Linked DNA regions of Homo sapiens: regions 1 and 2 are each linked to region 3. Evidence: fine-mapped expression QTL. A gene starts in region 3. Each other region holds a variant in brackets. All regions are shown on one strand. Distances are from middle to middle.

The links. PIP is the estimated chance that this variant, and not a neighbour inherited with it, causes the effect. A credible set is the group of variants that fine-mapping cannot tell apart.
Region 1: its variant is the best candidate, but not a certain one, in a credible set for the expression of LINC02762 in whole blood (TOPMed, PIP 0.59).
Region 2: its variant is the best candidate, but not a certain one, in a credible set for the expression of LINC02762 in nasal epithelium (TOPMed, PIP 0.59).

Annotation. Positions count from the first base shown.
Region 1 is chr11:112,204,750-112,215,424 of GRCh38, forward strand. It overlaps BCO2 (beta-carotene oxygenase 2), which reads left to right. Exons shown (of 12, transcript NM_031938.7): 9 at 8,975-9,112; 10 at 10,013-10,195. It also overlaps the pseudogene MRPS36P4. Among named protein-coding and RNA genes, the nearest start is that of PTS, 16 kb to the right of the region's middle. The variant T/C (reference allele first, on the strand shown) is at 4,912.
Region 2 is chr11:112,472,127-112,482,801 of GRCh38, forward strand. It overlaps LINC02763 (long intergenic non-protein coding RNA 2763), which reads left to right and starts at 10,106. Exons shown (of 3, transcript NR_120559.1): 1 at 10,106-10,329. LOC107984389 (a long non-coding RNA gene) reads left to right here. Exons shown (of 3, transcript XR_001748387.1): 2 at 1,152-1,210; 3 at 2,108-2,381. The variant C/T (reference allele first, on the strand shown) is at 5,998.
Region 3 is chr11:112,265,295-112,275,969 of GRCh38, forward strand. It overlaps LINC02762 (long intergenic non-protein coding RNA 2762), which reads left to right and starts at 5,455. Exons shown (of 4, transcript NR_126004.1): 1 at 5,455-5,489. It also overlaps the pseudogene ST13P10.

The DNA.
Region 1 (10,675 bases), 61 kb before region 3:
GCAACCTCCGCCTCCTCAGTTCAAGCAATTCTCCAGCCTCAGCCTCCCGAGTAGCTGGGATTACAGGCATCTGCCACCATGCCCGTTGTATTTTTAGTAGAGATGGGGTTTTGTCATATTGGCCAGGCTGCTCTCGAACTCCTGACCTCAGATGATCTGCCCACCTTGGCCTCCCAAAGTTCTGGGATTACAGGCTTGAGCCACCACACCCAGCCTTTAATAACATTTTCTTATTTTCTTTTATCTGGTTTGCTTTATTGTAATAATACAGTATATAATACATATGAAATACAAAATATGTGTTAATTAACTGTATGTTATTGGTAAGGCTTCCAGTCAACAATAGTTTATTAGTAGTTAAATTTTTGAGTAGTCAAAAGTTATGTGTGGATTTTCGACTATGTAGGGGGTTGGCACCTCTACCCCACTCCGTGTTGTTCAAGGGTCATCTGTATTTTTTATTTCTTTAGGAACTCCTATACTGTTTTTCATAATGGCTGTACCAATTTATATTCCCACCAACAATGTACTAGAGTTCCCTTTCTTCTACACCCTTGCCAACATTTGTTATCTCTTGTCTTTTTGATAATAGCCATCCTTATGAGTGTGAGGTTTTATATAGTGGTTTTAATTTGTATTTCCCTTATGGTTAGTGATGTTGAGCACCTTTTTATATGCCTATTGGACTTTCAAATTTTATTTTATTTTTTATTTTATTCTTTTAGGGACAGGATCTCACTCTGTTGCCCAGGCTGGGTGCAGTGGCATGATCATAGCTCACTGAAGCCTCAAACTCCTGGGAACACGTGATCCTCCTGCCTCAGCCTCCCAAGTAGCTGGGTCTACAGGTGCGTGGCACCACACTCAGCTAATATTTTAAAAACTTTTTTGTAGAGACAGGGTCTTATTATGTTGCCAAGGCTGCTGTCAAACTCCTGGGCATGCATGATCCTCCTGCCTCAGCCTCACAAGTAGCTGGGATTACAGGTGCATGGCACCACACTCAGCTAATATTTTTAAAACTTTTTTGTAGAGACAGGGGCCTTGTTATGTTGCCAAGGCTTTTCTCAAACTTCTGGGCTCAAGTGATCCTCCTGCCTCAGCCTCCCAAAGTGCTGGGATTACAAGTGTGAGCTACCACACCTGGCCTCTATTTTTGGAGAAATGACTGTTCAGGTCCATTGCCCATTTTTTATTTATTTTTAATTAATTAATTAATTAATTTATTTTTAACTTTTAATTAAAAAGTAAACTTTAATATTGAAAATGCAAACTTGGGGAAGACAGAAAAGATCACACACAAGGCTGTCACTTCACACTTGGAAGGTTGCGCAGCGGCCAGGCAGAGGCGCTCCTCACATCCTAGACGGGCGGCAGCTGGGCAGAGGTCCTCCTCACTTCCCAGACAGGGCGGGGGCCGGGCAGAGGCGCTCCTCACATCCCAGACAATGTGGGGGCCAGGCAGAGGCGCTCCTCACTTCCCAGACAGGGCAGCGGCCGGGCAGAGGCGCTCCTCACTTGCCAGAGGGTGGGCGGCTGGGCAGAGGCACTCCTGGGGCGGCAGGGGCGGCAGCTGGGCAGAGGTGTTCCTCAGTTCCCAGACGGTGGGCGGCCGGGCAGAGGCGCTCCTCACTTCCCAGACGGGGCGGCGGCCGGCTTTTCCCATTTTTTAATTGGGTTATTTGTTTTTCTGGTATTGAGTTGTAAGAGTTCTTTATAAATTTTGAGGCCAGGTGTGGTGGCTCACGCCTGTAATCCCAGCACTTTGGGAGGCCAAGGTGGGAGGATTGCTTGAGCCCAGCAGTTCAAGATCAGCCTGGGCAAGATGGCAAGACCTCATCTCTACAAAAAAATTTAAAAATATACAAATTTTGAGTATAATTCCTTATTGGATATGTGGTTGCAATTTTTTTCCCCAGCCCATAGGTCGCCTTTTCGTTTTGTTGATTGTTTCCTTTGCTGTGCAGAAACTTTTAAATTTGATGTCAACTTGTCAGTTTTTGCAAGGAAAAAACCTGATACAATATTGCAACTGTAGATCAATTTGGAGACAATTGACATCTTTACAATATTGAGTCTTCCAATCCATGAACATGGAATATCCCTCCATTTATTTGGGTCTTTTAAAATTTCTCTCAGTAAAGTTATAGTTTTCAGTATAAAGATACTACATTTCTTTTTGTGTGTTTTGAAATTATTGTAAATGGTATCTTTTAAGCTTTCATTTTCTGTTTGTTGCTCTTTATAGAAATGCAATTGATTTTGTATATTATCTTCATATCCAGAGATCTTGCTAAATTCACTTATTAGTTCAAATAGTTGATCCACAGATTATTTTGGATTTTCTATGTGCACAGTCATGTTACCTGAAAATAATGACAGCTTTCTTTCTAATACTTAGGGCTTTATTTCTTTTTCTCGCCTTACTGTACCAGCTAGGACTTCGAGTTGAATAGAAGTGCAAGATAGTGAATAGAAGTTGAATAGGTAGTGTTGAAAAATGTTTAATAATTCATTATTAAATATAAAATTGCTATAGGTATTTTTCTAGCTATCTTTATCAGATTATCCTAATAGTGCCTTTTAATGAATAAACATTCTTAACTTAATATGGCCCAGTATACAGTCTCTTCCTTTATGACTTATACGTTGTACATCTTGTTTTAGACATCTTCTCATGGCAAGGTAATGAAAATATTATCCTATGTTATCTTCTAGAGAAGTCAAGTATCTGTATATGCATTATTCTGTTTCTGGACTGTATATTCTGTTCCATTGTTTCTACTTATGGTTACTTGTGCACTGCATTAAAAAAGTCTTAAGGTTTAGTGTCAAGTTATCCTAATATTTTTCTTTTGAAAAGAGTGTCATGGCCATCCCTGGCCCTTCACGTTTTTGTAGAAATTTTAGAATCAGCTGTCAGTTCCCCACACAAAAATATGGTCACATTTTAATTCTATTTGCACTGAACCAATGTATCAATTTGAGAGAGGACTAACCTCTTTACACAATGTTGAGTCTTCCAGTACGTGAACACAATATATCTTTCCATTTATTTGAGACTTCTTTAATTTCTTTCAATGTTTATAGTTTTCTGGTTACATATTTTCTGCATCTTTTGTTAGATTTATTCCTAGGTTTTTTTTTTACATTATTTTAAATGTTGTTTATTTTTTGCTTTCATTTTATGTTAGTGTTGCTATATAGCAATTTTTTTTTTTTGAGACAGTGTGACGGTCTCACTCTGTCACCAAGGCTGGAGTGCAGTGGTGTGATCTCAGCTCACTGCAACCTCTGCCTCCTGAGTTCGAGCAATACTCCCACCTCAGCTTCCTGAGTAGCTGGGACTACAGGCATGTGCCACCATTCCTGGCTAATTTTCATATTTTTTTGGTAGAGATGGGGTTTCACCATGTTGGCCAGGCTGGTCTTGAACTCCTGACCTCAAGTGATCCACCCACCTTGGCCTCCCAAAGTGCTGGGATTACAGGAATGAGTCACCGCACCTGGCCGGCAATTGATTTTTGTTTGTTGATTTTATATTCACTAATATAGTAATTACACTTACAAATTCTAATAATTATAGATTCTTTTAGATTTTTACATCTATAATATCATATGCAAGTAATGATAGTTCCTTTTCTAACTCTACATGTAAGCTGTATATTGGCTTTTTTTTTTTTGTCTTATTTCACTGGATCTTCAGTACAGTGTTGAATATAAGTGATGATAATGGCATCCTTAACTTGTTCCCAATCTGAGAGGCAAAGCTTGCAGCATTTTACCATGAAGCATGCTGTGGCTGTAGATTAAAAAAATATAATAGAAACTGTCCCTTCTCGGGGGTCATGATGGGCAGCAAGATGCATCTGCTAGCAGTGTCGTTCAGGTAGTCAAGCCACATGCTCCATTAATAAGCTTCCCTGCTGGAAGAGACAATCCTAAACCCAATGTACCAGAAGCTCTGAGATCAGCAGGGCAACCATCTCACGATTCTGCAATTTCCCAGCATTCTAAGGGAAGTAAATTACTGGATTTGTGGATGTACCAGACACTGCAGAAGTAATGAAAACATTACCTCAGAAATATAGAAGTAAACTTGTGTCTCAAGAAGAAATTGAATTTGTCCATTGTGGAGATCCAGAATAATCACTGTGGCTGCTGTTTGTCATCAGACAAAAGAATTACCTTTACAATAAAGGACTTCCAAAAAAAAATAGACTGTTTTTTAGAGCAATTTTACTTTTAAAGAAAAATCAAGCAGAAAGTATGGAGAGTTTCCATATTTCCCTCTCCTGCTAATGGTACATTTGTTACAACTGATGAATCAATGTAGGAGTGTTACATTATTACTAACTAAAGTCCATACTTTACATGATGGTTAGGTCTGTGTTGTACAGTTCTACCGGTTTTGAAAAATGCATAATGTCATGTATCTACCAATATCATACAGAATAGTTCACTGCCCTGAAAATCTCCCTGTGCTCCCCCATTCGTCCCTTCCCCTTTCCTCCTCTCAGCCCCTGGAAACCACTGATCTTTTCACTATTTCTGTAGTTTTGACTTTTCCAGAATGTCACATAGTTGGAATCATACAGTATGTAGACTTTTCAGACTGACTTTTTTCACTTAGCAATATGCATTTAAGGTTCCTCTGTGTCTTTTGTGGCTTGAGAACTCATTTCTTTTTATCGCTGAAATGTGTATTCATTCATTTATTGAAGGACATCTTGGTTGGTTCCAATTCTTGGCAATTATGAATAAAGCTGTTATAAATATTTGTTAGCACGTTTTGTGTGGACAACTTTTTAAAAAGATACATTTTATTAGATTAGGAGAGTTCCCTTTTACTCCTAGTTTACTGAGATTTTTTGTCATGAATGGATGTTGGACTTTATCAACTGTTTTTTT[T/C]CTGCACTATTGAGATAATCATATAACGTTTATCCTTTATTCTGTGAACATGGTGAAGTACATTGACTGATTCTTTAAAAAATGTTCATAACAGCCATTGATTGATTTTTGAATGTTAAGCTACCCTTCCATTCCTGAAGTAAATCCCAATTGGTCGCATTTTATTTGCTTTTAAATATATTGCAGGATTTGCTTTGTTACTATTTTGTTTAGAATTCTTTGTATCTATGTTCATGAATAAAATTGCCCTTTAATTTTTTTCTTTTCTATAATGTTCTTACTAGGTTTTGGTTTTGTGGTTTTTCTAGTCTCATACAATGAGTTGGGAATTGTTCTCTGTTTTCCTTCTTTCTGGATGATATTGTATAGGATTGATATTATTTCTTAAATATTTGGAATAATTCAACAGTAAAGCCTTCCAGACTTGAAAATTTCCTTATAGGCAGATCTACAGTTCTAGAATATTGATTTGGTTCTCTTTTCCAATTTATAGTTCTCTACCACAATTCTCAGTTTAAAATAATTTCCTTAAACATATTTAGAATAGTTAAAGTCTGATAACTAGTATCTGGATCTTCTGTGATTCTGTTTCTGTTATCTGTTGTTTATTTTGGTTTTTAATCATGTTGCCTTGTCTTTTCATGTGCTGGTTATTTCCTTTCATTTGCAGAATATTGTGTTTTAAAAATTGTGGAAATATTTTGAGACACAAGATGATGTTATTTTCCTCTAGAGAAGAATTTCACTTGCTTATATAATTTGAAGCAGGATTCAGTCCATGCAAGAGCTGGACTATTTCTTGTTTATTCTTATTCATAGGGTACAGACCTATGAGGTCCCAACCCAAAGGACTAGAGGTTTACTAGGCCTTCCTCTTCTTGGAAAATCGTAAATTCAAACTTTTGTCACTCTAGCCCTCAAAACTATTGAAAAGCCCTTCTCTTTAAGGTTAAGGGGTAAGTGAGTTGCTATGGCTATACCCTTATCAAAAAGTAGCGTGAAGGATCCTTGTGGTGATGGATCTGTTCTGTATCTTGAGTGGCGTGGTGGGTACATGAATTTACACATGATAAAATAGCATAGAACTAAATACACGCACACACACACACACACACACACACACGAATGCATGTTAAACTAGAATAAGGTTGGTGGATTGTATCAATGTAAATTTCCCAGTTGTGATATTATATTATAATTATGCAAGACATTCCTACTGGCAAAAAAGGATGACGAATATATGGGAAATCTCTGTATTATTTCTTTTTTTATGGTGTAGAAAGTATATATATATAACATTAAATTTACCATTTTAACCATTTTAGGTGTTCAATTCAGTGGCATTAAGTAAATTCACAATGTTGTGCAACATCACCACTATCCATTTCCAGAACATTTTCATCATCTCAAACAGAAACTCTGTACCCATTAAACAATAATTCCCTGTTCCCCCCACCTCCAGTCCCTGGTAACCTCTATTCTACTTTCTGTTTCTATGAATTTGCCTATTTTAGGTACTTCATGTAAGTGGGGTCATACAATACTTGTCCTTTTGTGTCTGGCTTATTTCACTTAGCATAATGTTTTCAAAGTTCATCTATGTTGTAGCATGTATCAGAATTGCATTCCCTTTTAAGGTTAAATAATATTCGATTGTATACACACACACACACACACACACACACACACACAATATTTGTTTATTCATCTGTTGATGGATACTTGGGTTGTTTCCATCTTTGGAGTATTATGAATAATGCTGCTATGAACATTGGCATACAAATATCCAAATTCCTTTTTTTAGTTCTTTTAGGTATATATCTAGAAGTGGAATTGCTAGATCATGTAATTCTGTGTTTAACTTTTTGAGGAACAACCAAACTATTTTTCTACGGTGGCCACAGCATTTTTCTACCATCAGCAATGCACAAGAGTTCCAGTTCTTCACGTTTTTACCAACATTTGTTATTTTCTGGGTTTTAAAAAAATAATAACCATCCTAATGGGTGTGAAGTGATATCTCATTGTGGTTTTGATTTGCATTTTCCTAATGACTAATGATGTTGAGCATATGTTTAAGTAGTTAGGGAAAAACTTGCCCCAGTATCCAGTTGGTTTCTGTGGGTTTCCTTTTCATCCCAAACCTGGCCCCTTTGTTCTTCACTGTCTTTTTAGCTCACCAGTGCCTTCAGGCAGCTGTTTTAAACATTTTGTCCATAATTTCTAGTTGTTTTCAATGGGGTAGTTGATCCATATAATGTAATCTACCATTATTTGAAGCGTCTTTTGGGTTAGCTATGGTTTTGCAAGAGAAAACAATTGTAAATATAATTAAAAGTCATTTTTAAAAAGTTGGTAACTTCTGAAGCCATGGTGACCTTTTATAAAAAAAAAAGCTAATAACTTTATGAATCTTAAGAATAGCACTAAATCTTTACTCACTAAAAATATTTCTGCATGCTACAGAGATCATATAGACTAGGTATATGGGAGGAAATGGTGCAGTTTGTTCTCCATCCTACAGTATTTCAGAGAGGAAAATGGGCTTAAAGCACTTACTGTCAGGAAAAACACACTTACTTTATTTGGGTCTCCTGCTTAAACATCATCTCTATGGAGAAGCTGTGTTGGGAGTTCCCAGGATCACCCCTAGGTTTGATAATTCATTAGGAGGATTCATAAGACTCAAAATAGGTCAGGCGAGGTAGCTCACGCCTGTAATTCCAGCACTTTGGGAGCCCAAGGCAGGAGGACTGCTTGAGCCCAGGAGTTCGAGACAAGCCTGGGCAACATAGTGAGATACCATCTTTATTAAAAATTTTTAAAAAGACTCTATATAGTCATACTCATGACTCATGATTACAGTAAAAGGATACAAAGCAAAATAAGCAAAAGGAAAAGGCACATGAGATGAAGTCTAGAGGAAACCAGGTACATGCTTCCAAGAGTCCTTTCCCAGTAGAGTCACAATGGACATGCTTAATTCCTCCAGGAACTAGTGACAACATGTGTAAAATGTTGTCTGCCAAAGAAACCCACCCAAGCCTGCTTGTCCAGGGTTTTTATTGGGGATGAATCATATAAGCATAAAACCCCTACATGATGACCCTCAGTTACTGATGTTCCAGATCCTCAAGGGAATGGAGGTGTTCATTATAAATCACATTGTTAGCATAAACTATCTGGACAAACTACTGCAGAGTCACTTAAGGACTGGCACATGCAAGAACACTCTTATCAGACAGAACATCCCAAGAGCTCAGTTCCCAGCAACCAGCCCAAGGTCAGTCATGAAAACAAGTCTTTCTTGAAATAGTGCAGGGTTTGAGCAACCCAGGCTTACTAAGTTGATCCTTTTCCACACAGAGGTCTACCTGATCAAATCTGAAGAAGGAAAGCACCCTTTGTTACTCTCTAGTTTCTTACTCTTTGTTATATAATCATTTGTTTATTTGATGCTAATTAAATAACTTTTTTTTTTTTTTTTTTTTTTTTTTTTTGTGACGGAGTTTCACTCTTGTTGCCCAGGCTGGAGTGCAATGGCATGATCTCGGCTCACCGCAACTTCCACCTTCCAGGTTCAAGTGATTCTCCTGCCCCAGCCTCCCGAGTAGCTGGGATTAGAGGCATGAGCCACCATGCCCGGCTAATTTTGTATTTTTAGTAAAGACAGGGTTTCTCCATGTTGGTCAGGCTGGTCTTGAACTCTAGACCTCAGGTGATCCGCCTGCCTTGGCCTCCCAAAGTGCTGGGATTACAGGAATGAGCCACCGCACCTGGCCACAAATATTTTATAATTTTTAAATTTCTTTATTATCATTCCTCCACTAGAATATAAATTATATGAGGCCAAAGACTTTGCTTTATTCATGACTGTATCTCCAGTGTCTAAAACTGCTTGGGCTATAGTAGGTACTCAACAAATATTAAGTAGATGAATGAATGGAAATTATCATTTATTTAAATATTTAGGAATGCCAATGATGTTGACTGGATCTAAATTATTGGGACATACTGTTACCATATGAATGACAATTTTCATCTCTTTCTTCTTCCCAAACAGGTCCATAATTCAGCAGCCAAATCTTTCCCTCGAAGGTTTGTTTTGCCTTTAAATGTCAGTTTGAATGCCCCTGAGGGAGACAACCTGAGTCCATTGTCCTATACTTCAGCCAGTGCTGTGAAACAGGCTGATGGAACGGTATGCTATGAACAGACATTAGACTAAGACTTTGAACTTTAATGGTGTTACTTTATTCTTTAGCTGTTTTCCAAAATGTCTGGTACCCAATAACTTTTATAACATTCATCCGAGCAGGTTAAGGTTATGTAACATCGCTTGCACAAGAATTGCAGAAACAGTGGGAATGAACACAGTGTTTATCTATCCTTCCTGTGCTTTGAAACAGAGATATGGAACTGTCTAATGGTTGTGGAATGTCTATCCATTTGAGCTTGGCATTAGCAATCCCCACCTTTTATTTTTTATTTATTTTTATTTTTTGAGATGGAGTCTTGCTCTGGCGCCCAGACTGGAGTGCAGTGGTGCTATCTCGGCTCACTGCAGCCTCTGCCTCCTGGGTTCAAGCAATTCTCCTGCCTCAGCCTCTCGAGTAGCTGGGACTACAGGCACCTGTCACCACGCCCGGCTAATGTATTTGTATTTTTAGTTGAGATGGGGTTTTGCCATGTTGGCCAGGCTAGTCTCGAACTCCTGACCTCAGGTAATCCGCCCGCCTCAGCCTCCCAAAGTGCTGGGATTACAGGCTTGAGCCACCGCGTCCAGCTGCAATCCCCACCTTTTAGATAATATGTGCTTAGCACAGACCTATCATTGTGTAGCTGTCAATGCCTTAGCTTTAGAAGAATAAAACGCATATCTCCACCTCCTATGTCATTTGACAGCTTATTAATAAAACTTGATAATCATTATGCATCCACACATATGATGGAAAGAGGAACAATATTAAAACATGACATAGAACCTCAGTTCCCAAGCCCTGTCACAAACCTTTATAGGGTATGAGGCTCCTCACTGACCTACATAAGAGGAAAATAAGAATTAAGCAACCACTACAAATCCTTTTGAAATCTCTTTTAGATCTGGTGCTCTCATGAAAATCTACATCAGGAGGACCTAGAAAAGGAAGGAGGCATTGAATTTCCTCAGATCTACTATGATCGATTCAGTGGCAAAAAGTATCATTTCTTTTATGGCTGTGGCTTTCGGCATTTAGTGGGGGATTCTCTGATCAAGGTTGATGTGGTGAATAAGACACTGAAGGTGATGAAAAACTCTTTCCTTTTTGAACTTTTCAGAGACCTGTTCTTCCCTTTGAATTAGTTTGTTTTATTTAAAGTAGCTCTTAAGATTCTTCAGTATTTAAGCAGCTGAGCCATTTTCTTTTATTTGAGAACTATGAAATCATCTAAGTTAGGGGTATGTTCCTTCTAGGGAATCCAAATTGACCCCAGGCCCAGCAAAATAATTCTATGTTTGATTTTGATGTTATTTTGGGAGCAATTGTGGGGTTAGGGTTGTTAGGACACCTATATTTAAAGTTGATGGCAAATTATAGTTACACAAATTGTGTTTGATGGTGATGGAATCTGGGACTGCAAAGACTCCCTCTCTTTCTCCCATATTCAACTCAGTAGGCCTGATTCTTTTACTTTTGGAATATTCTATTGACAGCCTGTGTTAGTCTGTTCTGTGTTGTTATAAAGAAATCCCCGAGGCTGGATAATTTATAAAGAAAAGAGG
Region 2 (10,675 bases), 210 kb after region 3:
GTGTGGCGGGTGACTCTGAAACTTCTCACTGGGTTGCACCTCTCCAAGCACCGGCAGTAACTGAATGTGTAGACGAGGACCCTGCAGTCAACCTTCCTGGGGTTCCGGGAATCCTCGCCTATGGTGTTCCAAAAGATCCTGGAGGAGACACAGAAAATCCAGTTTGTGGGGAAAGAATGCGTTCCATTGTCGAGGAACTTCAGTTGCTAGAAAGCTGCTTCTCAGATTGAACTTTGCAGAGTCAGGCTTGCCAGTCAGCACTCAAGTGCCAGTCTATTCCCTCTTGGGTATTTTGATTTCAATTAGGAGACCTTGTTTATTGTGTTAAGGTCTCAAGTGTTTAGCTTCCCAAAGACATGTTTAGTCGTAAGGAAAAAATCTTTCTTTAAAATATCGAGCTCTCTATTAAAAACAAATGAAAAACACAGAAAGAAAAAAACGGAACAAAAAATATCAAATAAAACCCAACCATTATTCCTTGAATAAAATGGATCTTTCCCCCTAAATTTTCAATATTAAGTTTAAATCTTTTTGGATTATGGGCATAGCTTTGGGGATTCAGTCATCTTTTTCATTTACAGGTGAGAAACTTTCGGTCCAGGAAGTTACTTACTGTGTACTTACATAATAATAAGTACACTTACTGTGTACTTATCTAAGTGTACACAGTAAGTATTAGGGCTAGGATTTGAATTCTGTTCTGCTCTGAGACAGAGCCCATGTATTTTCTACCATTCCACACACAGCGTGGAGCCTCTGACAGGTAGAAATTCAATATATGGGCCGGACGTGATGGCTCATGTAACCCCAGCACTTTGGGAGGCCAAGGCGGGCGGATCACGAGGTCAGGAGTTCGAGACCAGCCTGGCCAACATTGTGAAACCCCGTCTCTACTAAAAATACAAAAAATTAGCTGGGCGTGGTGGCAGGTGCCTGTAATCCCAGCTACTGGGGAAGCTGAGGCAGGATAATGGCTTGAACCTGGGAGGTGGAGGTTGCAGTGAGCCGAGATCGCACCATTGCACTCCAGCCTGGGCAACAGAGCGAGACTCTGTCTGGTAAAAAAAAAATTCAATATATGACTGCTTTCTGAAAACCAAAGAGGCAGCCTTAGTTTGTTGAGCAGTTTTTCTTCTCTACTCCTGAAACAGAACTACACGGGTCACCTGCCTTTGCCAGAATGAAGAAACCCTCACTTCCGACTGGTACAGTAAGTTTTCTCTCTACTTGACTTTCTCTTTCTCACGACTGTCTTTTTTAATTTTTGGTAAAAACTTACTCTAAGCTTAATCTTTTCCAAAGTTACTTATTTGAGTTTGTCCACTAGAGTCCTCATAAGAACCAGCCCTACAGGTTGGTAATAAAGCCTCAGTTTACTCTGGACACCACTGTTTTCTCAAAGGGCTAGGACTCCTTGCAGAACGGCATGTGGACAGCACATTCAGACAAGACCTAATAAGGGCATTGAACGTCACTCAATAGTAAGCACTGGCCGTGTACGTACCAAACACTGAGTTAGCAGGTGGATTTCATATCCATACAGAGTTGCGTTGAATAGTTTTTTGAACGTATGTGGAGGCATATGTAATATATTGCAAGTAAATGAAAAACAAGAAGAGATATTTAAGAAGTAGTTTTGCCAGTGGGTCAAGGATCTCAGGCCGCAGAACTGTCCATTAGTCCTGAAGCTTTCATCAGTCTCTGAAGACAACACAGCCACTATCTGGGAACATCATTAGCCTCAAAGAGGTCTCCTCCTGCCTTTTGGAGTTTTATGAATGTCCATCCTCCTGCAAGGTGACTTTGAGAGCTTGGCCAGGGACCTGTGCTCTTTTGTCAGTGTGCATGAACTTGATATGTCCTTAAAAATATGTATATGTAATGTTGCCTGTTGAGTACCTCCTCACAGCCAGGAACTTGTGATCAATTACATCTCATTTTCCTAACCCCCTGTGAGCAATAGTATGCCTCTTTTTCAGATGAAGAAAGTGAGGCAGTGCAGAGGTTAAGTAACTTGCTAAGGTCATATAATAAGTGGCAGAACTGGATTCAACCCTGGGTTGGCTTAACTCTCTTTGTTCTTCTCCTTCCTTCTTTTGTGCTCCAGAATGATCAACTTAAAGAACCCTAGGGTTGTCTGTTGTAGAAATCAACTCTTTAATCATCAGCAGCTGCATTTCTCCTGGGATGCTCTGGTGGAAATGGCTGCACAGCACACTCTCTTCTGGTCCACTGGTCTACATGGGAGAGATGGAGGTCAGGGCATTGCCTCCTATGGATAGAGATCCCCAGGGCTGACACGGGGGCAGTTCTACTGGGGTTGGATATGTGCTTCATGATGACTGCCGTGACATAGCTACAAGATATCTACAGCCACCCTAAGGCCAACAACGTCAGTTAAGTGCCTGGCCTAACTGCTTTCCAGAGGGTCAGGGTTTGGGGGGTTGGGGAGGGGTGGCTGGTGGGAGTAGGAGAGGATCACGTTATTTTCTGCAGATCCCACTGCTCTCTCTTGCTTCCTATTGTCTCCGCTGAGTGACATTTGCACCAGCTGCTTCCAAAGGGAGTAGCTTTGGTGAAATGTCACCGGCTTCAGCGGGGATGGCCCTTCTCCATCCTTCATTTCTTCCCCTAATCCTCCCTTCCACCCCTCAAGTGCCTTTTTTATTTTGAAAGGACACTGCCTGGAAATTCAATTGCAGGAAAAAGTAATTACATTTTCTCTTCAGGTGTGCCTCTCAAAAAGCCTTCAAATCATCTCCGGCCAAAGCACTGGGATTATTCCAAAGGGAAACAGGTATTAGTGGCAGCTTTGACGGCTTCCCTCTCTGGGTCTCACTGCTGCTTTTCTCCATGCTTAGGGCCACAATGACAGAGTGGTCGATTGCTTTGCCTCCCTCCCTTCTGCCACCCTCTCCCAGCAGAGGTCAAGGTCTCATTCAATGTCACACAAATAGTAAGTGGTGGGGCTCACCTGGCTTTGCAGCTGGGTCTGTTCAACTCCACAGCTATGCTTTTAATAACTTTGCTATGCAATTGCAGTGACTATATTTGCAGAACCAAAAATTGAGAGGCATGATCTGACAAATATTTTCAATTCCTGATTTATTGCTTTTTTTTTCCAAATTTTTAACATGAAAAGCCACACAAAGGTACAAAAATGAAATCACGTTTTGTTACGCACACATCTAAGTAACATGATCATTATTGGAAAGAAGAAATTACATAAGATTGAAATTGTCCCAATCGTATATTGGGAAATCCAGCTCATAGAGTTGCTATTTGGTGAGAATTGCACTTGACCAGGAGCTAAGAGTCTTAGGTTCTGGTCCAGGTTTGACTTTTAACCAGTTGTGTTTTCTTGATTAATTTACTTCACCCCTCTGGGCCTTATTTTCTCAGTTGGTGAAGTGAGAGAGAATTGGCTCAGATGATGTCTCAGGGCCTTCCCAGGGCCTTCCTAGCACTGATGTTCAATGGCCTTGTAATTCTAGGTATAGACTTCATCGGGGCTGTCAGCGACACACAGATGAGATCCTTCCTTTGGAAATGAGTTTTGTTCCTCTCCTGCTTTAGATTAATCCTGGCAACATCTGAATCCAGCCCTTTGTTGTCTGGAACCCTCTCATGTTCCCTGGGAGCCTACTATTTTTTATAGGCTGAACCCTGGGAACATATTTTTCTGATTTTTCCAGGAAAATGATCTCTGTTTGGACTCAGCTCATTGCTTGCTTCTTTCCCTTTCTTCAACCTAGACCCCCACCTTCTTCTGTCTACCCTCCCCTGCACATCTCAGCCCCTCCCTTCCTGCTGCTTCTAATCGATGCCTCCCCAGTATCTCCTGCTCTCTTTTGCATTTCAGTCATTCTCTGCACATAAATCGAGGTTCAGCATTCCCTGTATGGAAAGGGACAAGAAAACAAGGCCAGCCATGCTTGGCTCGACTGTCGCTGCACAGCCATCTCTCTTCCCCTCCCATCTTTTCCTTTCCTCCCCATTGCATTTAAGTTTTTCTGCACTTTCCACACATCTGAGACTGTGCTATTGAAGATAACCAGAGAGTCTATTCTTGAAGCCCAATAGCAGTTTCTCCTGGCTTTCCTTGACCTTTCTGCAGCTTCTGGCACTGGCACCTTTACCCTTTGAAACACTCATAACTGGCTTCAATTCTCACTACACTGTCCGACTCTGTCTCCTTCATTTTGTACTCATCCTTTATAAGTGGACATGTCAGAGGTCCTGACTCTGACTCATTTTCTACGCTTTCTCTGAGATTTCACCTATCCTTGTTGCTTCTACTAAATCTCTTTGAGGTTTGACATCAAGTTTCTATCAGCCCCATGCACATCTTCATTTGGGTGTTCCATTATCACCTTACTCAACATGTTTGCAAGAAACTTACCATCCTCAATCAAAACCCGCTTCTCCTCTAGATTTCCCACTGCTGTCGATTTTCTGTCAGTTAAGTGGGTTTGAAATCTAGTCAATGTCCCTCAATCCACTTTCTTCCTCACCCACTCCTCCAACCAGTCACTGCAACTGATCTATTTGTTATCCATACGTCTCTTACATACGTCTGCATACGTCCCTCCTATTTCCACTGCTACCTTCCCGATTCTGATTCACACAAAGAATCTCTTTACTAGTCTTTAATTTCTTGATTCTCCAACCCATCCTATTTTCCTCTATGCCAATACCCTTCCGAAAATATCACTTTGCACATTTCTCTGTATCCTTCTGCTTCCTGTGTTCTCAATCACTAAACAAACTTTCAGAAGTTCCCAGAATAACACCCCAAACTCTCAGGCTGACATTGAAAGGCATCCAAAAAGTGGCCCTAATCTATTCTATTCTCACTTCTCATTAGTTCCCACATAAATACAATTTCCTGTAGATAAAAACATATACTTTGTCTGCCCTTTTGTTTATCTAGAGCTTGCTCCTCCTCAGTCCCATGTGCTTGGGCAAGAAAATGGGCCTCCATGAGTGTGATTCTGCACCTATAAAATGGTCATGATCCCTTCTCTGATTTCCTTTGGGGGGTTGTGAGGATGAAATTTACTTATTCAAGAAGCATTTACTGGAGAGGTCCTGGGGACTGGCAAAGATAAATAAGTTACCATCTCTCCCCACTAGGTTGCCCAGGTAATTTGAGGAAGCATACACTTAAAAAACCCACATTGTCAGTAGGATGGGGTGAGCAAGAGTTCGCTGGCACGCACACTGTGCCCCAGCTTGGCCCCACTCCACCAGCCTGAGTCCTGCTCAGCTCCTTTCTAAGCCACCCTCCATCAAGGACTACCTGTCCTCCTCCCTTTCCTCAGGGCCCAGCTCTCCCTAATGTGAAAATGAGTGATAATGGATGCTAATTTAATGTGTTACTTCTTCCAGGTGACATATTTACATTTTAATAGCAGAAAATTCAAAGGAGGATATTTTAAGCACTGTGGCAGTGGGTGGGGACATATTTTGAGTTAGGGAGGATTTGGGGGACCTTAAATCACACTGGATAGGCACCCACTGATTCTACCTCCTAGGATTGGCTGCCCTCGGGAGTCCAGAGATGAGGATCGCCTCCCTGGGCTGTGCCCCCTCCGTATCTGATGGGAGTACTACAGAGTGTCGGACTCCCGGGGCAATGATGGATGAGACATCTGCTCCATGATGGGCTATTACCAACAATTCATTACTGCAAAATGGATTTACCCTAATTAGCCCAGGAGCTCTGAGTTTAATGTGGCATTCTGCAATCTCACAGATTCTGCTGCACACATTGAAGGGGTGCATCACATTTTACAGAGCCAAGAAACCTGAACTACAGAAAACAATGGAGATTTAGCATGCCTCTTGAATTAGTTGACATATTTACTCTTCATGAATAAGCCTGTTTTGTAGACAAACACTGTAGCTCACAGTCTCATTATTAGAAATTAATTCGCTCCACTGCTCTGCCCAAGGGCACAGTTCTCCTTGGGGAACAGTTTTGCCCTTATCATG[C/T]TAGTGCTTGCAGTAGGTGACTGGGTTTCTGAAGTTCTGGCCTGGGAATGTTTCTCTAGGGGCAGTTCTGGGAAATGGGCTGAGTCTGTAGGTCTCTGCAGGCCCTTCATCATGAGTCACCTGTGTGAAATTTGCACCTTCTGCATGGGAGCATTTGGGAAGATTTCTTTTTCCCTTTGTAATATGTCCCAGCAAAACCATCATCATATATCCACAGTTTGGGGAAGAGTGAATTATCCAGAACAGTATTCACTTCAAATAATGTGTGACAGACACAGTGTCAATTTCCTAAACTTCTGATATTATAGGTACTGCTGTTGATGCATGAACTCCCTGCCCGGGTTTAGCTTATCCTTGGGAAATTACCCAGCCATTTGTCACATCCTCACAAATGACAGTTCTTCTGGGCTTCTTTTTCTCCAATAGCTCCGGGATCTCTGAGGTCTCTTCTAGATAGAAGATTCTATGTTGCCATCTCCCAAATCAGCAACTGGGGGATTTTTTTTAAAACCCAGGCCCCAAATTGCAGATGTCCCACCTCAATGCTGGTGGTAATGGTGGATGAGGGAGATAACATTTTGGGGGCCAAAGCGCAGTCATTACTTTCTTTTTTCCCTTAGGAGTTAAACTTGCTAATTCATTTCTCTCACTCTGTTAGGTCTCACAAATACAGGCAGTAACCTGTCTTCAGGCTTAAAAGTGCTTATTCATTTAGCCATTTATTCCTTTCACAAATATTTATTGAATGCTCATTAAGTGCAAAGCACTCTGTTAGGTGCTGGGGTTGTACTGGACATGGGGTTTCCCCTAAACAGCAAGAGACTGTTTAGCTCCAGCACAGACACAATCCAATTAGATTTTTTTATCAAGTACTTGTTATGTATTTGTAGTGGATCAGGCCCTGGGGTACAGGAAACCCAGACACTCCCTGAAAGGTACTCACGCCAGGCACACATGCTGTTCTCTGAGGTCAGATTAAGACGAAAGCTTTTGTGCGTAGTATTTTTTCTTCTCTCACACAGCCGGCTTCTTTCCTGCTTAGTGAAGGGGACTCCCAGCCCACCTTTCCAGACCACATTTCCATTAGGATGCTCATTCTAGATTTTGGTGATTTCCCATCTGGATTACATGGAACTATTGGGAAAATGTCCTTACTTTTCAGCAGAAATTTTTATCAGCTGTCTCACCAGCTTAAGCGTTCTTTCTCACCACCAACTTTCTATTCATTTTTATATTCCCATCCTTATCCTGATAGAAAAATCAAGGATCCTGTATAATTTCCACTTAGAACAGGCTGTGTGACTTGGGGCAAGTTTTTATCGTTCTCCTCCCTTTCCTCAGAGAAAGGGAGGATCCTGTATAATTTCCAAGGATCCTCCTGTATAATTTTCATGGACATTTGGGTTGTTTCTACTTTTTGTCTATTATGAATAAGGCTGCTATGAACAGTCATATAGAAATTTAGGTTTTCACTTCTCTCGGGAGGAGTAGAATTGCTGGGTCACAGGGTGATTCTATGTTTACCATTTGGTGGAAATGCCAGACTGCGTCATTTCACATTTCTACCAGCAATTGGTCATTAATTCTCCATCAAGGCAGTGACCAGCCACTCTCTCTGAAGAGTATAAGGAAAAGAAGCTACAGTTCCCACTCCTGTTGCTGGTTTTAGGCCGTAACGAATATTCATTGCTCAACCACCTCCATGACTGATTCTAGATTTCTCTCACCTCTAGCTAGGTTGCTTTTCCAGTGGGTTGCTGAGTATGCTTTTCAACTTTAAAGTGCATTGAATCACCTGAGAATTGTGTTAAAATGCAGAATCTGATTCAGTGGTCTGGGGAGGGACCTGGGCTTCTGCATTTCTAGAAGCTCTCAGGTGGTGTTGATGCTGCTTGTCCGTGGGCATGTTTGGGTAGCAAAGAACTAGGCTATGTTTACCCTTGCTTGCCATTCCCTTGCTAAACCATGGTTGCTGCAATTGCCCCTTTATAGTTTTTGCTGGGTTTCAAGCACCTAGAAAAGCCCCACTGAAACCCCTGGGTTCTAGAAAGAATCTTTCCTCCTCCTGTTGTGCAGCCACAACTCTAGCTTCTTCTGGTAATCAGGGTTATTAATCCCACCAGTATGATAACTCCTGTGTTGTCCATTAGCATGAGGTGTGCCAAGTGACTAAGTGGTAGTCAGCTTTAAGTTCAGTGGAACCTCACTGGCAGAAGAGTTTCTTCCCTGACAACCAGACCTCTTATCCAGCAGGGTCCAGGCTATAGACTGCACAAATTCTGAGTGAGTGGGAAGGATGATGAGAGAGACAAGTCCTACATCCACTCCTTGGTTCCCAGACTGTGTATCCCTGCTGTTTGGGACACAGCACCATATACAATGCCAACATCATTCATTGCTCAGTGCACATACCACATCACCAGTGATTGTGTCCTAACCCTTTGGTGTGTTGTTACAGGGCAGGTGCCTTTGCTCATTCTGCCATTCCTTCAGGATGCTGCTTCTGGATGATGGGGGCCTTAGTAAGACTGGTGAATTCCATGATCACACATGCATTGTGTGGTAAAGTGGCCCTAGGAGCCAGCATTGGTGACTGGGTGGCTGTTGGGTGAAGCTGGTTACCATAGAACTGCTGTCTGGTCACAGCAGTGCAGAGCTGGTCACTGGTGACAATAGAGGTGGAACAGTGGTAAAGGGCCCAAGACAGATGAGGCTGAGGGGATCTGAGAAGATGCATAAGAAGAGTCTCATACAGAGGGCTTGTGGCTTAGAAAGCAAAATACAAACACAAGGCAGAAGAGACACTGACCTCCATGGGAGTTTCAACCTAGTTAGGGTGGAGGGGTGAGCATGGCGTGGAGTAGGTGAGGGGCTTTCAAGCACAGGTACGACAGAACCTGGTCTTGCAGGTCATGCGGACACGAGACTGGTGGAAACGGGAAAGTATTCCAGATGGTCATGGGCAGTGTCAAGAAGAACCCAGATGTGGGAGTGCATGAGTTTATTTAGGGGCTTGAACACAGACAAGTTTGGAGCTGGTTTGTGGGAAGGAATAATAAAATAATTTTAGTAGTGATAGGTAACTTTTATTGAGCCTGTATTGTATGCCTGACACCATTCTGAACTCTTACATGGATTACCTTATTTAAACCTCACAACTACTCCTTAAGGAGACAAGGTCAGTATTTGGGGGTATTTTGAAGAACCATCCAAAGAGTTGGGTCTTTACCATTGCCAAACTAGCACTGGAATAGCTGTGGGCCCCATGAAGACAGGGCCAATTTCTTGCTAACTTTTATATGCTTCGTTCTTTATATAGAGCCTGGCAAATGGGAAAGTATCCATGATATCACTGAATGTTACTAACAGCTATCCCTAACAATGCCCTCAGTGTATACCAGGCACTGTTGAAAGTGCTTGACATGGAAGAAGTTATTTAATCCTCACATAATCCTGTAAGGTAGGCACTAGTATTATACCCATTTTACAGATGAGAAAGTTGAGGCACAGAGATATTAAGTGACTTGTCCAAAGTAACAAAGAAAGAGGGGGCCAATGCCGGGCTTTGGACTCACATAGTCTGGCTTTAGAGTCCACACATTTAGTTAGTATGCCACATGGCCTCTCAAAAACCATTTAGGAGAAAGATTTGGAAATTCTATTGGAAATTAAATGATGGGGAAGGTTTTAAGCCTGGGTTGGTGGGAAGACAGGTGAACAGTTGTTTTAGGGGGTAAGAGGATGTACTTCATTGGGTCATCTATGGTCTCTCTGTTTCCTCCAGAGAGAAGGCATATGCTTCAGGCCTCAAGTATCAGCAGACGTGCAGCTCTGAACATCAGTAGGTGGTTTGTGTGTACATGTTTTCTCTTTTTTTCCCTACAGTGTATTTACACTCAAGATTGAGATAAACATCCATTTGCTTTAACACATGTGAAAATACCTTAGCAACTTCCTGCAGCTCTGGTCTGTTGCTAAGCAGTGACCCTACTGCTACCATGGCAACATCAGAGACTCCGGAGTGCTGCTGGTACCAGCCTCCTGTTCCTGACAAGACTTTGGGAAACTGTTAGCAGGGCCTTAGGAGCACTTTTGCTCTTGGGGGGCAGCCTTGCTCTATTGCTCGTTGGCACTGAGGGAAGCTCTCTGGGGAGAGGAGCCCACCAATGCTTGGCTGACAAGACCTCAGTCATGTCTGATGTGGCTTCACCTTTGCTGCCGTCTTCGTATCACTAGGGGAGCCCTGTGGAGTGGGGTGGAGTTCAAGATGGATTCTCAAGAAGTTATAGGAAGCTCTTTATCAATTCAATTCCTGAGAAGGGCCCACTTCAGGTACCTCCACCCAGCAGAGAGGAGCTATGGTACACCTTGGGGTGTGATCAGGCGAGACGACTATGTCCCTCAAGGGTTCTCAGTAGAAACAGAATCTTGCTCAGAGGTTTAGGAGACTTCACTGAAGGAACTGCTTACAGCAGTGTAGGCAGGACCAGGGGAACAGGTGATGGGTAGTGATGCCCCTGAAATAACAGCAGGAAGCCATTACCACCCCGAGCACTGAAGGGACAAGAGGAGGAAATGGCTTTATAGAAATGATATTCCAGTTTTAAAGCTGGTACCATGGAGCAGGGGCCACTCAGCAGAAGAGACAGTATGGGATGCAAATATTGCGAGAGATACA
Region 3 (10,675 bases):
CAGAGGCTCCTCATGCTGTAGAAAGTCTGGTGGGTGCTTCAATGCCTTGTTGGTCTCCCTGGGAAGGAGAGCTGTCAGAGAGTAGAAAGCAGTTGGCCTTCCAAGGTCAAAGTGTAATGGGAGATTCTCTGAGATTCACCAGACACGACCACTGATGGATGCAGGGATCACTAGTCTGAGGAGCCCTGGGGTTTTTGATGTGTCTCCTGGGCATGTCAGAGGTGTGACAGATGCAATATGGAGAACGTGAGAAAGGGCACAGATGTTAGAGTCCAAGAGGCCTCCATTGGAATCTTCCTCCTCACAGTGTAACCTTGGACTGTACTTAACCTACCTGAGCCTCAGTTTTCTTATCCATATTATGGAGAGACTCCGACCAACCTTGCAGGATTGTGTTAAGGTTTAAAAGAGGTAATGCATGTAACATGCATGCCACAGAGTCAACCCTCTAAGAGGAAGTTTTTACCACCGATGGCAAGTGTCTGTGTTAACTCGAGGGACAAGGGCGTCCAGGGAGCTGGGGGTAGCTGGAGAAGTTACTCTCATTTGTTGACCCACAATGGATGTTCAAGTCCACACATGTTGATTTATGAGCTAATTGGGTTGTGCCTCTGGCTCTTTGGTTCAGCATTGTGGGTGTTATGCTTTTGAATAGCCCAAAGTGAGAGTCCCCATGCTTTAGGGATAGCCCGTGGTCAGCTTTTGAGAAGATGCATACCATTCTTCTCATTCCCCGAGGACTTACAAATTCTCAGAGAGGGGGAACACGCTGCTATGTATTACATTAAGAATTTTCAAGCAGGACTGGCCCTAAGAGATAATTTTAATCTAACTCCCTTATTATGTCTGAGAAAACTGAGCACAGAAAAATTAAACAACTTGCCCCAGGCTTAAGAACTACTTAGTGACAAAGTCAGGGCCAGATCCCGGCCTCCTTCCCACCAGCTGGGGATTCTCTCCACTGGACAGCTTACTATCTAGGGAATACATGTGTGCTCTGCTTAGCATTTCAGATTCAGACATATTCCAGATACAGCACATGTTAATTTTAATATGCCGTGTGTATATTTTGTTGTACGTGTGGGACACGTGCCTCATCTACTTACATTTGATAGAACTTGGAGAGAAGTTTATCACAGCAATAGTTAGTTGCTCTATCTTTGCTCAAGACTTTTTGTTGATCATATTTGTGTCTTCGTTTAATCCAAAATTGCATGTTGAGAGCACAGCTGGATCTGCACTGTGCTTTACTTGTGTTGCCTCGTTGGCCTACCGTGGTCAGTGGACTGGGGTTGGCTGGTTGAGCTGCTCCAGGTCACATGGCCTTCTGGGAAAATAACCCCTGCTTTATAGCAATTATTGCCAAACTCCAGGCTGGCAATGATCTTGATCAACTGTTTACCTGTTTTCATGGAATGACAGAGATGAGGGCAAAATTATGACAGTTTTTATAAAGAAAGAAATGTTGATTTGGTTTAAAGCCTGCCTTTTATTTTGATGTTATAGCTTTCTGATGTTTTGTTGTTCTTTCTTTTATGAAACTATAGTCATTGTAGATTATAGATGGTAGATTTTCCCCTCCTTCACCTATTTATTTACTTATTTTTTTATGTTTGCCTCGCACTAATAAACTTCTATTTTGCTCAAATTAGAGCAGTAATCTTCCATACATAAGTATCTTCCCTGCCCAATAATTTAAAGAAAAAATCCAAAATGATTAGTAAAGAAAAATATAAGAATTAACCGTCCCTTTAAATTTGTTTTAAATATTTTTAAGGTTTAAAAAGGGTTTAAAGTTTGTAATTCCTAGTAGGAAAATATTATCTGAATGAATACCCTAATGGCAAACCATGGTAAATGCTTCAGCTGCATTTGGGGGAGAGGGATATGGATTATCTTCAAAGCACCCCTGAGGTACGCTGGTTTGTATTATTGCAACATCCATAAGGTGATCTAGGTTGCTTTTCCTTCAGCACGGTCTTTATCAGAAGGACATTACTCTTGACCTCCAAATTTGGCTGACAATTTACTGATAAGATTCATAACCTTTGGGTTGCCCTGGTATTGTGACATATTTGCTGGGTTTTGAGCCACATCCTGGAAGAGGCCACCATAACTTTGGGATCCTGCACGGCTGCAAGAACCTCTGGATCACTAAGAATTTCATTGAGTCCAGTTATTCCGGCCATCCCAGGCATGCCCCCTCTCATTCCAAGCATTCCCCCAGGAAGTCCATCTGGAAAAGAGCCATACTGAGCTACTGACTGTCGTCTGGCTTCTTCCTCCCTCTGGGCTCTCTCTTGCTCTTCTCGAGCCTTCTTAACTCTTTCTATTCTTTCTTTGATCTCTCGCTCTTCACGTTTTTGCTCATACTTTCTCTGATGTTCCGCAATGTCTGTGCCCTAGGCTGAACTTCTTTCAGCATTGCACTAGCATCTTCATCATAATCCAATTTACAGGCAAGGGCAAGATCATGGGCTGCTCCTTCCCAGTGGCCTAGAAGTCTGTGTGCTTTACCTCGCCACTTGTAAGGCTGAGCTGAAATAAATTTCAACGGCTCTGTCACAGTCTCGGATGGCAGCATTTGGCTTCTGTAATTTGATGAAGACACTGGCCCTCTTGGCATACAAAATGGCCAACTGAGGATTCAGCTTGATGGCATCTGTGAATAAGTCAATGGCTTTCTGCAGTTCACCATCATTTAGGGCTTCAATAGCAGCCACTTTCTTATGATTTGCCTGATCCATCATCTCCTCTGTTATCTCTGCATTTTCATCTCCCATTTCTTGAGGGGCATCAGGGTCTGGTTCAATCACATCTTCATTATCAATTAATAGATTACTTTCCTCACTTGATGGTTCGTCTGCCTTTAAGTCTTCCTCCACCTTCTTACTATCAGGTTTTTCTTCCTTGGTATTTTCTTCTGATTTAACTTTCTGAGTAGCAGGTGATAGTTTACCCCCCATGCTCTCCACCCACTCCCTCAGGAAGTGCATTTCCTTGGTGTGCAGAACGCTCAGATCCTGCTTACACATTTTCACAAAAGCCCGAAGTGCATTCACTTTGTGGGGGTCCATGGTCGGGAGGCGGTGGACGAAGCTGAGGGGCCGTGGCCCGGTTCCAGGCCTAGGCACTGGCTCAGTGTGACTGCGCAGAAGGGGGCACCTATTTATTTTTTAAATGTCCTTATTTAACAAAATGAAAACGTAGCACCTATCTAGGTGCCTAAAATCCAAAGTTTTGAAACCAGAGATCTAAAAAGATTTAGTTTGCATCGTAACTTCCAGAAATGCCTTGCATTACTGTGGCAAAAAGCAGGAATTGCTAGCATTTAAGTAGGAGTAGGGAGGTTACGTCTCAAGAAGGGTGTTCAAGGACCCCTTTCTCACTGAGTAGGAGGTCAGATCTTTTAAGCTTCTCTTCCCAACATTAGAATCAGTCATCCCCCCAAAATTGGACATTTATTTCAGTCACTTTTAGGGAGAGATCAGTGTTGAGGGCACTTAGTGGTAGAGTGAGAGCAGGGGTTGGTGGGTGAGAAAGTGAAACTGGACAAGAGAAGTTGGGACTCAGAGCTTCCCAGTCCCCAAACAGAAGAGGAACTGGGAAGGTATTTCCAGCTGCGGAAGAGGAAGGTTTGGACACTCTCTTTACATGGCTAGTGTGGCTTCTTCCTTTGAGAGGAAAGAATTCTCTGCTTGAGAGGAAACCCACTGCAGGAACCTGAAGAGAACTAAGCCCACCTAGGTCAGTAACTGGAAACAAGTGGCTCTTCCTCTGTCCTGCATAGCTACACTTAGAAATTTCATGGAAAGGTGTGACATTTTATCAAGACATTTGGCTGCATTGCTCCTGCTGTTTAACCAGAGGATTCAGCAGCAAACAAAATAAGACAAAACAAAACAAAAAAACCAGGACGGTTTAATGAGTGGGACATGAATTGGAACAGGCAGGATGAACTGTGGGTTCCTGTGGTGGTCTGACAAGGATGTGACGAGGACACCTTTCCAGGGGCAAAGTCAAGGCCATGTGCTCTCACAGGAAATTCCCTTCGGTTAAGTTCCTGAAGAGTGTATTGATTTTCTGATACCCTGCCTTATTCAGGTAGGACTTAAAGCAGCTTACAGGAAAACAAGATTTAAAATGTAAGAAGTTAAGGATATAGGGAAAAGAAAGGTAGAGCAGAATGATAAGAGAAAGGTGGGGTTTGTGATCGTGGGAATTTCCGTGCTGGCATCTCCGTGTTGGTTCTGTTGTTGCAGGTACTGGGAGGAGGAGATGAACCCTGCTCCTGTGGAGGCTATGAGGTATTGATGTCGTGTACACATCCAAGGGGTGGTCTAATTATTTACAACTAGGCTCCTGAAAATCAGCCCTGAATCCAGCTTTCTACCTTCTCTTTTCAATATCATTTAATTAATTGAGTCACAGAAACAGCCTTTAATTCATTTAATTCCCTTACATTCTTCTAACTTCTGCCATATATCTCGTGATCTGTGATTTTTCCTTTTGCACTGATTTGATACTATGTAGTAGCAACTAAATATCGTTACTTATACCATAGCAGCTAATCTTTCTTATCAACAAAAACAAATAATGTCCACATTCCTGAAAACAATTAGGCTCTATTTCTAGCCTTGTGAACAAATGCAATTTTGTCACTTACATAATTTGTTATTGATAGAGTAACTTCAGAATTATTTGTAGTACTGCTTCCTGAGACATATAAAATCATATTAATGATTTTTAATAGCAATCAATAATAACATTTATTAAATACCCACGGTGCTTCGAATCTTTCAGTTGGTCAGTCAGCATTTATGTTCTTAATATCACTCCCAAAGCGTCATATAAACAACTTCTTTTTTTTTTTTTTGAGAGGGAGTCTCACTCTGTCACCCAGGCTGCAGTGCAATGGCACAATCTCAGCTCACTGCAACCTCCGCCTCCTGGGTTCAAGCGATTCTCCTGCCTCAGCCTCCCGAGTAGGTGGGATTATAGGCACCTGCCACCACACCGGGCTAATTTTTGTATTTTTAGTAGAGACGGGTTTTCACCATGTTGGCCAGGCTCATCTCAAACTCCTGACCTCAGGTGATCCGCCCGCCTCAGCCTCCCAAAGTGCTGGGATTACAGGCGTGAGCCACTGCACCCAGCCCATAAAAACAACTTCTAACCTCAGGAAGCCTACACTCCAATGGGAAACCAAGGGTGACCCCAGACCAATTTATGCGACTGCTTTATTTCCTTATCCACAAAGTGGGGAGAATGACAGTGCCCATCTCATAAGGCTGTTGGGAACTTTTAACGACATAATACTTGTGGAGCGTGATGGCTGGCATAGAGAAAGCACTGGATAACTGCTTGTTTTCCTTCTTCTTGTTATGATTGGAGAGATTCCGCGGAGGTGGTGCCTGGGAGCTGGCCACACCTCCCCCAGAGGGAATTTCCGAGTTTCACAGGTTTCTCTCCCTTCTGAGCAACGGCAGGTGAGTCAGGGTCGCTTGTGCTCCCCTCCAGCTCTGGGATGTATGCTGTCCAGCTGGTTACGAGTCTCCATGGCATCCGAGGAAAAGTGGAGCTGGCTGAAGGGAGGTGGAAAAGAAGGGCAACAAATTCCAGTTTCTTGTGAAACTTTGTAAACGTAAGGCTCTTATCTCAGTCTGCAGAGCAGAAACAGGGTGAGGGCCATGGATCTGAATGTCTCCACCTGTGCATAAAACATATGATTAGAGCTGAAGACCTAGAAGTCCCTTCCCCAGGCAGGGCATGAACTCTTCTGTTTCTAGAACCATTTAGGGAGGTGACAACTTGGCTTCGTCCCAGAGATTCAGGTGAGGACAGAACAGAGGGCAGGGTGTTCTTGCCCTGAGTTCCCCGCTAATGAGCTAATCCTGGCCCTTCACCTTTGTTTGGCATGAAGTTTACCAGAAAAGGGCATCCTGCCTTTATCCTTGGTTCTCTATACCCTCGCTACTTTTCCTGTGTTTTGTAAACACGGGATGGTGTATTTAGCTTTCTTTTGCTGGAATTATTTTCACCCCATGTCCTGTGTCTTCCTTGTCCAGAAGAAATCATCTTCTAGCCTAAGAGCTCCAGAGAAGGGTGTGCAGGGGACGGCCATGTTCTGATGCATGCATTCAGCTGTGTCGAACAGTCTTCCTGTTTTGCTACTGTCTGAGAATATTCTTTTCATTCTGTGGGCTCCTGGGCCTGGGCTTTCCTTGGCTTATCTCAGGAATCTGCCTCTTGGTCCCTTTCATTGGCTGCCTTCTATGTTTAGGTTTGTAGGGGAAGGCCCCTGGAAGGTGGGTGGGAGAAGAGGCACCTCTCAGGAGAGGCTGAGGCGCAAAGATGCTCTTGTCCACTCAAGTCCATATTTATTTATCTTCTAATATACTTTGTTTGTTAGTTTGTATGCTTGTTTGTTTTGAGGGTCTCCTTCTGTTACCCAGCCTAGAGTGCAGTGGTGCCATCATGGCTCACTGCAACCTCAATCTCCGAGCTCAATTGATCCGCTTGCCTCAGCCTCCTGAGTAGCCAGGACTACAGGTGAATGCCACCATGCCTGGCTAATTTTTTTTTTTTTTTTTTGTAGAGGGTTTTTTCCTGTTGCCCAGGCTGGTCTCAAACTCCTGGTCCCAAGTGATCCGCCTGCCTTAGCCTCCCAAAATGCTGGGATCACAGATGTGAGCCACCCTGCCTGGCCTTCTAATATAATTTGGATATTCCATGGATATTCCCACCTTGATCTACATTAGGAACTTCCTGGAGGCTTGTGCTCAAGAGAGGTAGTATCTGCTTGCTCAGCAAGCAGAGGCTGAGTAAGTGCAGGACTCTGAATATGGTTGTGCAGCAGAGTTGTGGGTATTTGTGGGGACGTTGACCTCAGGCCCAGCATTTAGATTTAGCTAGCAGACATGCCTGGGCAGCTAAACTGGCAATGTCAGACCAAACTGCCTGGCCTGATATTGCCAGGCAGTTTAGCGTATCAGGGCTCTGCTTAGAAGCCACAATGCCAAGGCCTCATGACCATATTCTTCCACCCTTGAGAATCTTGTCCACCTTCATATCCCTCCATTCCTCACGCATCATGTCCTGGGTGGGTGCCCTGACACCTCATTCTCACCTCCATCTCCTTGCTCACTCATGTTTTCCAGGTTGTACTTGAGAGAGCCTAGGCCTTAGCGGTAGAGTTGGTTTCAAGTTGCTGCCCTCCCATCCCCTGGAATGTAACTGGCTTTCTGGGACTTAGTTTTTTTCATTTGTAATGCCTGCCTTGTAGTCCCATTGTGAAAATTAATCAATAATTTGTTTTGAGGGTCCAATATGTGGCAGGCATTGTGGTAAGCTTTAGGGCAGGGGCATAAAGACCAGTTAAGATTTCTCCTTTTTAAAACTTTTATTTTTTTGTAGAGATGGAGTCTTGCTATGTTGCCCAGGCTGATCTTGAACTCTTGGCCTCAAGTAATCCTCCTACCTGGGCCTCCCAAAGGAATTACAGAATGAGCCACCATGCCTGGCTTATCCCTCTTTTTGAATAGCTTTTGGTTAGTGTTAAGAGGCAGGTTCATAAACATAATTTCAAAATAATGCGTAAATGCTAAGATAGAGGTAAGCCTTAGGAGTACAAAAGAAGGGAAAGAATGCTTTTTGGGTAAATGGTGGATGAGCTGGTTTTCTTTCTCTTTCTTTCTTTCTTTCTTTCTTTCTTTCTTTCTTTCTTTCTTTCTTTCTTTCTTTCCTTCTTCCTTCCTTCCTTCCTTCCTTCCTTCCTTCCTTCCTTCCTTCCTTTCTTTCCTTCCTTCCTTCCTTCCCCCCTCTCTCTCTCTCTTTCTTTCTTTCTTCTCTCTCTCTCTCTCTGGAGTTCAGTGGCGTGAATCATAGTTCACTGCAGTCTTAAACTTCTGGCCTCAAGCAATCCTCCTGCCTCAGCCTCCCAAAGCACTGAGATTACAGGTGTGAGTCACTGCAGCCATCCTGGATGAACTGTTTTGAAGGATAGGGGTAGGTTGGGGTGAATGTTCCTGGAAGAGAGAAGTGTGGAATTACAAAACAGTGTGATGTGAGCAGGGAACAATGAAAAGGTAATGTTCAAGAAAAAGAGTGACAGATGCTGTTGCTGGCAAGTAAATAGGGGCCAAGTCATGCTAGGTCTTATAGGTCATGCTAAGCATTTTGAATTCTATCTGTAGGCAACAGAGTTTTATTTTTATTTGTTTATTATTTTTATTTTTTTCACCCGGAGGTGAAACAATTTTATTTCACAGTTGCCTTTAAAACCTCAAAGATACTATTTTCTTCATATAAAAATATTAGTACTGGGGGGAGAGGCCAAGATGGCCAACTAGAAACATCTGTGGTCAGAGGCTCCCACTGGGAGGAACCAAAATGGCAAGTGAATCCTGCACCAGCAACCAGGGTATCCAGGTTCTCTCACTGGGACTGACTAAGCAGTTGATGTGACCCATGAAGAGTGAAGAAAAGCCGGGTGGTGCGACGGCCCACCTGGGAGCCACACGGGGAAAGGGCAGCTCCCACCCCAAGCCAAGGGAGGTGGTTAGTGATCATGCTACCCTGCTAGAAAACCGTACTTTTTCCACGGATCTGCGCAACCCACAGATCAGGAGATCCCACTTTTGAGCTACACTACCAGGGCCTTGGGTCCCAAGCACAGAGCTGTGCAGATTCTCAGCAGCCACTTGACTGGAGACTGCCTAAGACCCCAGTCAAGTGGCTGCTGAGAATCTGCACAGCTCTGTTAAGTTAACTCTGCACAGCTTTGTTAACAGCTCTGTTCTGTTAACTCTGCTAAGAGTTTCCAGGGGGGTGGGGGCAGCCATTATCACTGCAGCTGCCTGCTGCCTAAGATGACTGAGCTCCCCTGAGTTGGGGTGGTGGCCATCATTGCAGCTCATGTCTGCCATTTTTCCCCTGGTGGTTTCATCTAAGCTCATAAGGGAAAGGAATGAGTGGAAGATGTAGGGGAGCTCACTCAGCAGTGGAAGTTTTAAGTGGCAGAGAGGGAAGGTTTGCGATGGAGAGAATAGTGAGAACGGGAGGAGGAGGTTGGAGGAATGTTCTGTGGAGGACAAATGGTGAGACGGGCTTTCTCTGAGGACAATGGTTGTGGTGTGACTAGACTGGCTGGTCCCAAGGGTCCAAAGGGAAGCCACTAGCCTATTAGGGCTGGGCTGGAGCGTACAGGTTCTGGATCTGTAGGTCAGAGGTGGGGGGGTCCAGGAACATGCATTTTTTTTTTTTTGAGATAAGGTTACACTCTATGGCTCAGGATGGAGTGCGGTGATGCAATCACAGCTCACTGCATCCTCGACCTCCCCGGATTCAGGTGATCCTCCTGCCTCAACCTCCCTATAGCTGGGACTATAGGCATGCACCACCACACCTGGCCAGTTTTTGTATTTTTTGTAGAGATGGGATTTCATCATGTTGCCCAGGCTGGTCTTGAACTCCTGGGCTTAACTGACCCACCTGCCTTGGCCTCCCAAAGTTCTGGGATTACAGGCATGAGCCACCACACCCAGCCAGGAACATGCATTTTTAATAAGCAACCTGTGACAGTGATGCAGATGCTGAAGGCCCCACAAGATGCTTATTTAAAATGCATTTTCCTGGACCCCACTCCAGATTTAGGAGCCATAACTTTTTGTGTCATTTTAACCAGCTCCAAGGTGATTCTTATGTGCCCTCGAGTTTGAGCTCCCTGGCTGGAAGTCTTCGTGGTCTTGGGCACATAGTGTTAGGTGGCATTCACTGAGGTAATGTAGGTACAACACCTAGTACAGGGTCTGTCTGGTCAATGACAGTTATAATGCACACTGGGACCCTTGGTGACATTGGTGGCTTACAGGAGGGTATGCAGGTCCAGTTCATTCCGGTAAGAGACTGATTATTAGCCGATGCACACAGCATCCAGAGGATGGGGGAAATATTTCTTCACTTTCTTGGAATATTTCTACTCCTTCTTGGTCACACCTCTGGGGGGCTGTCTTGCTCTGGTCTCCCTTCCTCTTACGCAGTCCTCTTCATCTTTCATATCTGCTGGCCTTTCTAGGTCCTACTGCAGTTCTGAAGGGGAGGATCATCCTGGGAGGTCCATGTGTGCCCAGGGAGCTCAGGCCCTTCAGTATCTTTGGTGTAGACCGTGAACAAGACACACAGCAATGACTACCTCTCCTGGCACCTTCAACACTATTTTGTGAACAGTTTATCTCTTTTCTCTGTCTTTTTCTCTGTCTTACTGATGGCTCCTCAGAAGTGAGTAGAGGGGAAAAGGAAGGAAAGGGGTGATGGGATGAAGTCCTTTCTGCTCCCATTATCATTCAGATTGAGATTGAATCAGTCATGTAAATGAATGGGCAGATGGACATCCTGCATACCGACCTTATGTATTATTATTATTATTATTTATTTTTTTTTGTAAAGATGGGGTCTCCATATGTTGCCCAGGAGCAAAGACCATGACTTATTTGGGCTAATGTCAGTTCCTTTCTTCTCTAACTATTCACAGTTAAAGACATTGATGACCTCCTCCCATAAACCTAGGCTAGCTCTAATTTTTTTTTTTCTTTGAGACAGGGTCTTGCTCTGTAGCACTGTCTCAAAGCCTGAAGTGCAGTAGTGAAATCACAGGTCACTGCAGCCTTGAATTTCT